Homo sapiens: one gene and its partner. The protein of the gene in region 1 purifies or fractionates together with the protein of each later gene. This does not show direct contact. Each region holds a gene or a part of one and is shown on either strand. Other genes may lie near its edges.

Region 1 (3,444 bases):
AAAACTGCCAAATGCTGCAGAAGTTGCAGACACAGAGGAGGCCCAATCAGTGTCCTTTTTCATATTCACCTTTGAGCCGGGGGTGCCTGCTCAGGGCCTGGGCCACAAAAGGCACTGAGCAGAGATTTGTTTAGGAGGCAACATGAGGTAACAGTGAAGACAAGAGCAATTCTGCCTGCTTGCTGTAGGATCAGCCAAGCCTCCACTTTCTCCTCTGGCAGATGGAGATCATGGCAGTGCCTGCCTCATAGGTTGAGAGGATTCAATTAGGCAGGCCTGTGATGCAGATGCTGTGGGCTGTCCTGCCCCATCCCCTCAGCACTCACATTCCTGAGGGCCCGATGGCTTCCTACTTTTCTGTGGTCACAGGAGCATGCTGCTTAACACCTGTGGACCAGAAGTGCCAAGGAGGTAGCACTTCTATTAGCCAAAGACAGGAGTCAGAGCATAAAGATGCAGGTTCGGCCAGGTGCGGTGGCTCACGCCTGTAACCTCAGCACTTTGGGAGGCCAAAGCAGGCAGATTGCTTGTGTCTGGGAGTTTGAGATCAGCCTGGGCAGCATGGAGAAACCCATCTCTACTAAAAATACAAAAATTAGCCAGGCATGGTGGCGTGCAGCTGTAGCCCCAGTTACTTGGGAGGCTGACACAGGAGAATTACTTGAACCCAGGAAACGGAGGTTGCAGTGAGCCGAGATCATGCCACTGCACTCCAGCCTGGGCAACAGAGTGAGACCCTGTCTCAAAAAACAAAAAAAAAAACAAAAAAACCACACCTGGTGCAACTCAGGTGTGTTCCATGCAACCTCCCAGAACTCCCCAGCAGGATAACATACTAGTTGCCCACAATGGCAACCTGCTCATGAATGCACGTTTTGATTTCCCTCCCGTCCTCATCTCACATCCTCACTCCCCTCCTGGTGCCTCCTGGGATCACCTCCTAATTGAGTACTTGTTCTCAAATCCCTGTCTCAGTGTCTGCTGCTGGAAAGCCCAATCCAAAAGAGCGTGTAAAGTGCTTGACAGAAAGAGGACGCTTGATAAATGCTAGCCAGCTCACTAGTGTGAAAGTGTCATGAAGGCAGAAGTCATCCATCTGAATATGACTGTCTCCCCAGGTCCAGGTGCTGGCACAGAGGTGGCACCTAATACACATGTGTTGAAGAAATCAATAGACATGCTCCTCCCACCACCCTGTCCTTTCCCTCCCTCCCTTTCCCTAGTCTCACTCTCATTTCCCCCAGTCCCACATTTTCTTTCCTAGTGCTCTTTTTCTCCTCTCGTGGAGGAAGGATGCTCTGGGCCCAAATACCCCTTTGCTGTCCCAAAAGTTCCACTCTGGAAATGAGCCCCCCCGCAGCATTGTGACATCACCGTGCACTAGCCAATGGCTGCCTGCCTAAGCTGGGTCCCTGGTCTCCTGGGACTACTAGCCCTTTGTTGATAGGGAGAAGCCAACATCTCCCGCAGGACCCCCTAATCTTCAGGGCAGCTCCCAGAGCATGGATCCCTCCTGATTCCACTCAGCCCGATGTTCCTCACAGTCAAGCTGCTCCTGGGCCAGAGATGCAGTCTGAAGGTGTCAGGGCAAGAGAGTGTAGCCACGCTGAAGAGACTGGTGTCCAGGCGGCTGAAGGTGCCTGAGGAGCAGCAGCACCTGCTTTTCCGTGGCCAGCTCCTGGAGGATGACAAGCACCTCTCTGACTACTGCATTGGGCCCAATGCCTCTATCAATGTCATCATGCAGCCCTTGGAGAAGATGGCGCTAAAGGAGGCCCACCAGCCGCAGACCCAGCCCCTGTGGCACCAGCTGGGACTGGTCCTAGCTAAACACTTTGAACCACAGGATGCCAAGGCCGTGCTGCAGCTGCTAAGGCAGGAGCACGAGGAGCGCCTGCAGAAGATAAGCCTGGAGCACCTGGAGCAGCTGGCCCAGTACCTCCTGGCAGAGGAGCCTCACGTGGAGCCAGCTGGAGAGAGGGAGCTTGAGGCGAAGGCACGGCCTCAGAGCTCCTGTGACATGGAGGAGAAGGAGGAGGCAGCAGCTGATCAGTAAACGGGCCATCCTACCCATTTGCATGCTAAAATTCTCCCGGCCTCATCCTTACGTGTTCCCTGGTGACTTTTCCTACTACTTCCTGCTGATGTGGATGCGTCCACACCCCTTTTTGAACCTTCCAAGCAGCTGGAGGGTTTTTGGATCCCTGTCCCCTCTTGGGCCTGAGGTCCTCCCTCTGAAATGCAGAGTGAACCAACCCTCATCACCATGCTTCCCCTAGAAGGGTTCTGATCACCGGAGGGCAGCCCCAAAGGCCACAGTCCCCTCCTGTGCTGGCAGCTTTGCCCACACATACCCAGCAGCTCCCCAGGCTGAAAGCAGCCCTGGCCCAGGGTCTCCATGGTTCTAGGCAGACCCTCTTTCTCCTTCGGGACAGAAAGACAATGTGAGTTCATTTTCCTCCATCCTCAGACCGTGACATCTCCCCTAGGCTCCCCAGCAGCCAAGAGGAGAGGAATGTCAGGTAGCTGCCCCTTGCCTTCTGGGTGAGGCTGCCCCTGCTGTTCTCCTGCTTGTGCTTCCAGCTTAAGGGACAGGCACAGCAGAGGTGAGAGTGGGAGGAGGGCACGTACCGGGTGCCAGCCCTGGAGCCCTCAGGGAGACAGACACAGACCAAGAATAGCAGGAAACTGAGCCTCAGGCAGAAAAAAAGTTCAGCAAAGTCATACACTCCCTGTGGCCAGCGTGAACAGAGCCATGCCCCACCCTCCCAGACTGATCAGTCAGTAGGTATCACAGCTCACATTACCTGCCCAGCGCTGCCCAAGGCTCCCTGGAAGGAAAAATGGTATCTGTCAATGAGGATCCTTGCCCTCACAGAGCACGCAGCCTAGATGCAGAGAGCTGCTATACATGTGAAAAGTAAAGTGGTGACATGAAACTAGAGTCTAGTGTGTGTGACTGAATGCACGGGGCCTCACGGGGCCCTGGGTTCAGCATAGAGGGGCCAGTCCCCTGCAGACTACGAGGAAAGCCAGGCCCTTTACTCTGTTCTTTGAGTGAGAGAGTGGCCCTTGCAGAGGCTGAGGAGTCCCCACACTCTGTGTGTGAGTGGGAGGGAGTGGGGAGCTGTGGTCCCCCATTCACTGCTGAAGCCCCTGAAATGCTGTTATTGCAAAAGTTTCAGTCCTGAGTGATGGGGATGGAGGGAAGGGGTGGAGGAGAATGTCTTGAACAAGCAGGGCCCCCTTCCCTAGGAAGCATCCTGTCCTTGGCCTGCAGGGCCCCTCATCCTCTCTTCCAGTCCGAGTCCAGCTGTGTGGCCATGGGTAACCTGCTTTTCCTGTCTGATGCTCAGGTTTCCCACCTGTTGCATGGGCATCCTTATAACAGCATCTACTTACCCCATGAGTGTTGGTGACGGTTAGAGGCAAAGACTGTCCAAC
Region 2 (4,838 bases), on another chromosome or scaffold:
TTTTGTAGTCTCTAAAATGATCTGATTTTTCCTCCCTCCCTCCACTCCATCCTCTTGCAGTGGTATTAGAATTAGATTCAAAAATGTTCATTTAGGCTGGGCATGGTAGCTTATTCCTGTAATCCCACCACTTTGGGAGACCAAGGCAGGAGGATCGCTTGAGATCAGACTGGACAACACAGTGAGACCCCACCTCTATGAAAAATAAAAAATTAGCTGGCCATGATACTCCCTGCTACTTGGGAGGCTGAGGTGGGAGAATCACTTGAGCCCAAAAGGTTGAGACTGCAGTGTGCTATGATTGCTCCACTACACTCCAGCCTGGGTGACAGAGTGAGACACTGTCTCATTTAAAAAAAAAAAAGGGCCAGGTACAGTGGCTCACACCTGTAATCCCAGTACTTTGGAAGGCCGAGGTGGGCGGATCACAAGGTCAGGAGATCAAGACCATCCTGGCCAACATGGTGAAACCCCGTCTCTACTAAAATACAAAAAATTAACTGGGCATGGTGGTGCACACCTGTAGTCCTAGCTACTCGGGAGACTGAGGCAGGGGAATTGCTTGAACCTGGCAGACGGAGATTGCAGTAAGCCGAGATCACGCCGCTGCGCTCCAGCCTGGCAACAGAGCAAGACACCATCTCAAAAAAAAAAAAAAAAAAAGTTCATTCATTTTAAAACATTTCAAGTGCCAACTGCTTACAAAAGACTGTGCCAGCCCAAGAATACAATGTAAACAAGATATGGTACCTCATGGAACTTAAGAGTCTAGAGAACAGAGGCTGGAAAACAGACAATTGCAATATGACCTATAACATGCCATAATATGAAAAAGTATATGACGCTAGAGAACCTCAAAGGAAAGAGACCTAACAGTCTTGGGGAATCAAAAAAAGACTTCCTGAAAGAAATGCTGTCTAAAATGAGACCTTCTATGGATACTTGAGGTCACAGGTTTTCCTTCAGCAGATCAGGGAAATCTTCATACTGGGAAAATCACCATAATAATGACTGATATGAAATTGGAACTCTCTCAATACCAAGTCTACTGAACATGTTCTCTCATGTCACTTATTTGCTTAAGAACCTGAGTGGAGGCCAGGGCAGTGGCTCACACCTGTAGGCCCAGCCTTTGGGAGGCCAAGGTGGGAGGACTGTTTGAGGCCAGGAGCTCAAGATCAGCCTGGGCAATAAAGTGAGACCTCATCTCTACAAAAAAGCAGCCAAGCATGTTGGTTGTGCGCCTGTAGTCCCCACTACTGGAGAGGCTAAAACAGGAGGATTGCTTGAGCCTGGGAGTTCGAGGCTGCAGTGAGCTAGATCAGGCCACTGCACTCCAGCCTGGGTGACATAGCAAGATCCTGTCTCTTAAAAATAAAAAAGAAAGAAAATAACCTGCATGGTTCGCTGCCCACACACCTTAATACACCTTTTTTTTTTCTTTTGAGACGGAGTCTTGTTCTGTCCCCCACGCTGAAGTGCAGTGGCACAATCTTGGCTCACTGCAACTTCAGCCTCCCGGTTCAAGTGATTCTCATGCCTCAGCCTCCCGAGTAGCTGGGACTACAGGGGCCTGCCAGTATGCCTGGTTAATTTTTATATTTTTAGTAGAGACAAGGTTTCATCATGTTGGTCAGGCTACTTGGGAGGCTGAGACAGGAGAATCACTTGAACCCAGGAGGCGGAGGTTGCAGAGCTGAGATCATGCCACTGCACTTCAGCCTGATGACAGCGAGAGATTCTGTCTCAAAAAAAAAAAGAAAGAAAGAAAGAAAAGAAAAGAAAGAAAAGCCTTTCTCATAATGCCCACCTTTGGTGTTATTATCCTCCTCTTCCATCTTCACAATGTACCTCACTTGCGCTCATGTTGTACCTAGTCCTCATCACAGCACTGATAAATATGCTCTCTGCTGTACTACTGTAACCCGTCTATCTCACCTGAACTCCTTCAGGAACATCTTTTTCAGTCCCTAAAACCCGAAGCTAATTCCTTCCTTGGGGCCTTTGCACCTGCTATTCTACCTGCCTGAATACTCCCTCTGCCCCCCAGCACCACTAGATAATTGCAAAGACTCACCCCCTCACTTCGTTTAGGTCTCTACTGAAATAACTTACCCTTCATCTAGACAAGCATCCCATCACTCTCTTTCCCTTTACTTGGTTTTTGTTTATTACTTATTATACCTAGCACACACAGTTGTCTTCAATAAACATTCCACGTATATAAAGGCACTGTGTTGTTCACCGGTTATCCTTACAGCCTGGAATAATATCTAGCATATGTTATGTCTAGATAAGCAATTGCTGATAAATACTCATTAAATGAATAACAAAATGAATTAAACTAAAGCTCATCTGAATTCATTATGGCTGAGAAAAAAGGGGCAGGAGAGCATTTCGGCCTGAGCACAAAGAAACTGGGGGCTTCCTGGGAAGAGATCGTTTTGGTACCTGTCCCCCGCCCTCAGGGAAAAGCACTGTGTCTTCCAGCACCACTTGGAAACCGCTCAGCACTTCTTTCTTGCCGTTGCTCCCTTCAGTCTGCAGCTCCGCGGGACAGCAGGAGACCACGGTGGTGGTGAACTGAACAGAGAGGAATGAGAGAATAAGCCCCGACCCCAGCCCTAGCCCTAGCCCTCTCCACACCAGGACAGAATGCCATGTTGGCACTCCCTACACGTGGCGCCCTCTTCCCCAAACCGCCTTGCCGGCCCGGCAGTCTCAAGTGCCTCGCCGTGACGCCGTACCTCTCGGGCATAACTGTCACGCTGACACCAGAACGCCATACCTGCAGGCGTGTGAGGAGGCGCACGCGCAGAGAAGCCTGGGAGCGAACGGAGAGCGACGTGGGACAAACGTCATCAAGGGCGCTTGTCTGCGCAGAAGCAGGAGGGTAAGGAATGGAATGCGGTTTGGATAAATTTACTGAAAACGCGAATTGCATATTTGCTGGGTTGTTTAACGACTGTTCTAAGGCTTTACAAAGGACAAGACCAGGAGGAAAAAAACAAACAAACAAAAACAAAAAAACGCGACCTGGACAAGGCACGTGGTTTAGTGAGCCCCTTGGGGCCCCAGGGATGTAAGTATTCTGGCTGCGGAATCCCAGCGCATAGAGGCGGGGACGGGACTGGCATGGTTACTGAGCAGCACTGCCCAGTAGAAATAGAAAGCAAGGAGCTGGGGGAGGTGGCTCACGCCTGTAATCCCAGCATTTTGGGAGGTCGAGGCGGGTGGATCACCTCAGGCCAGGAGTTCGAGACCAGCCTGGCCAACATAGCGAAACTCCGTCTCTACTAAAAATACAAAAATTAGCCGGGCGTGGTGGCGGGCGCCTGTAATCCCAGCTACCCGGGAGGCTGAGGCAGGAGAATCGCTGGAACCCGGGAGGCGGGGTTGCAGTGAGCAGAGATTGCACCACTGCACTCCAGCCTGGGCGACAGAGCGAGACTCCGTCTCAATTAAAAAAAAAAAAAAAAAAAAAAAAAAAGGCCGAGCGCGGTGACTCACGCCTGTAATCCCAGCACTTTGGGAGGCCGAGGCGGGCGGATCACGAGGTCAGGATATCGAGACCATCCTGACTAACGCGGTGAAATCCCGTCTCTACTAAAAATACAAAAAATTAGCCGGGCGTGGTGGCGGACGCCTGTAGTCCCAGCTACTCCGGAGGCTGAGGCAGGAGAATGGCGTGAACCTGGGAGGCGGAGCTTGCAGTGAGCCGAGATCGCACCATTGCACTCCAGCCTGGGCGACAGAGCGAGACTCCGTCTCAAAAAAAAAAAAAAAAAAAAAAAAGAAGAACAATTTGGCCAGCGTGGCCAACATGGTGAAACCCTGTTTCTACTAAAAACACAAAAACATTAGCCAGGCGTGGTGGCACACGCCTATATAATCCCAGCTACACGGGAGGCTGAGGCAGGAGAATCACTTTAACCCGAGAGGAGGAGGTTGCAGTGAGCCGAAATCGTACCACTGCACTCCAGCCTGGGTAACCCAGCGAGACTACGTCTCAAGAAAATTACATTACATTACATTAAAATAGTTTGGGCCAGACACAGTGGCTCACATCTGTAATCCCAGCAGTTTGGGAGGCCGAGGTGCCTGGATCAGCTGAGGCCAGAAGTTCGATACCAGCCTGGCCAACATGGCAAAACCCTGTGTCTACTAAAAATACAAAAATTAGCTCGGTGTGGTGGCGGGCACCTACAGGCTGGGATTACATCCCAGCTTCTAAGGAGGCTGAAGCAGGAGAATCGCTTGAACCTGGCAGGCGGAGGTTGCCGTGAACTGAGATCGCGATACTGCACTCCAGCCTGGCTGACAAAGCGAGACTTCGTCTCAAAAAAAAAAAAAAAAAAAAAAAAAAAAAAAGCAAATTAAACCAGGTGCTAATTTTTATCTTGTCAAATATCTGAAACGATTTAGAGAATGGAACACTCTCATTGTTCGTAGGAGTGAGAATTGGTACAATTTCATCAAAGAGCAACTTGGTAACAGCTATCAAAATGTTTAAATGTATTTTATCTACTCCTTGACCTAGCAATTCTACTTCTAGAAATGTACCCTACAGATATCCTGGCAAAAATATGTAAAGATCCACATTTTTAAATGTTGATTGCAATATTGTTTGCAAATGGTAAAAGACTGCCGGACGCGGTGGCTCATGCCTGTAATCCCGGCACTTTGGGAGGCCGAGGCAGGTGGATCACCTGAGGTCAGGAGTTCTAGACCAGCCTGGCCAACGTGGTAAAACCCCGTCTCTACTAAAAATACAAAAATTAGCTGGGCCTGGTGGCAGGCGCCTGTAATCCCAGCTACTAGGGGAGCCGAGGCAAGAG

Evidence for each region. The genes of interacting proteins can lie anywhere in the genome.
Region 2: the proteins of UBL4B (region 1) and AARSD1 purify together in Homo sapiens (affinity purification with mass spectrometry, with the first as the bait; one large-scale study listed by BioGRID). This does not show direct contact.

What each region holds. Positions count from the first base shown.
Region 1 is NC_000001.11:110,111,004-110,114,447, forward strand, and holds UBL4B (ubiquitin-like protein 4B), read left to right. Parts: upstream 1-1,439; 5' UTR 1,440-1,531; coding exon 1,532-2,056; 3' UTR 2,057-2,944; downstream 2,945-3,444.
Region 2 is NC_000017.11:42,961,655-42,966,492, forward strand, and holds the start of AARSD1 (alanyl-tRNA editing protein Aarsd1), read right to left. Parts: upstream 2,801-4,838; 5' UTR 2,787-2,800; coding exon 2,748-2,786; intron 2,584-2,747; coding exon 2,452-2,583; intron 1-2,451. Other genes in the region: PTGES3L-AARSD1 protein, read right to left, coding at 2,452-2,583. UniProt on the Homo sapiens protein: Functions in trans to edit the amino acid moiety from incorrectly charged tRNA(Ala).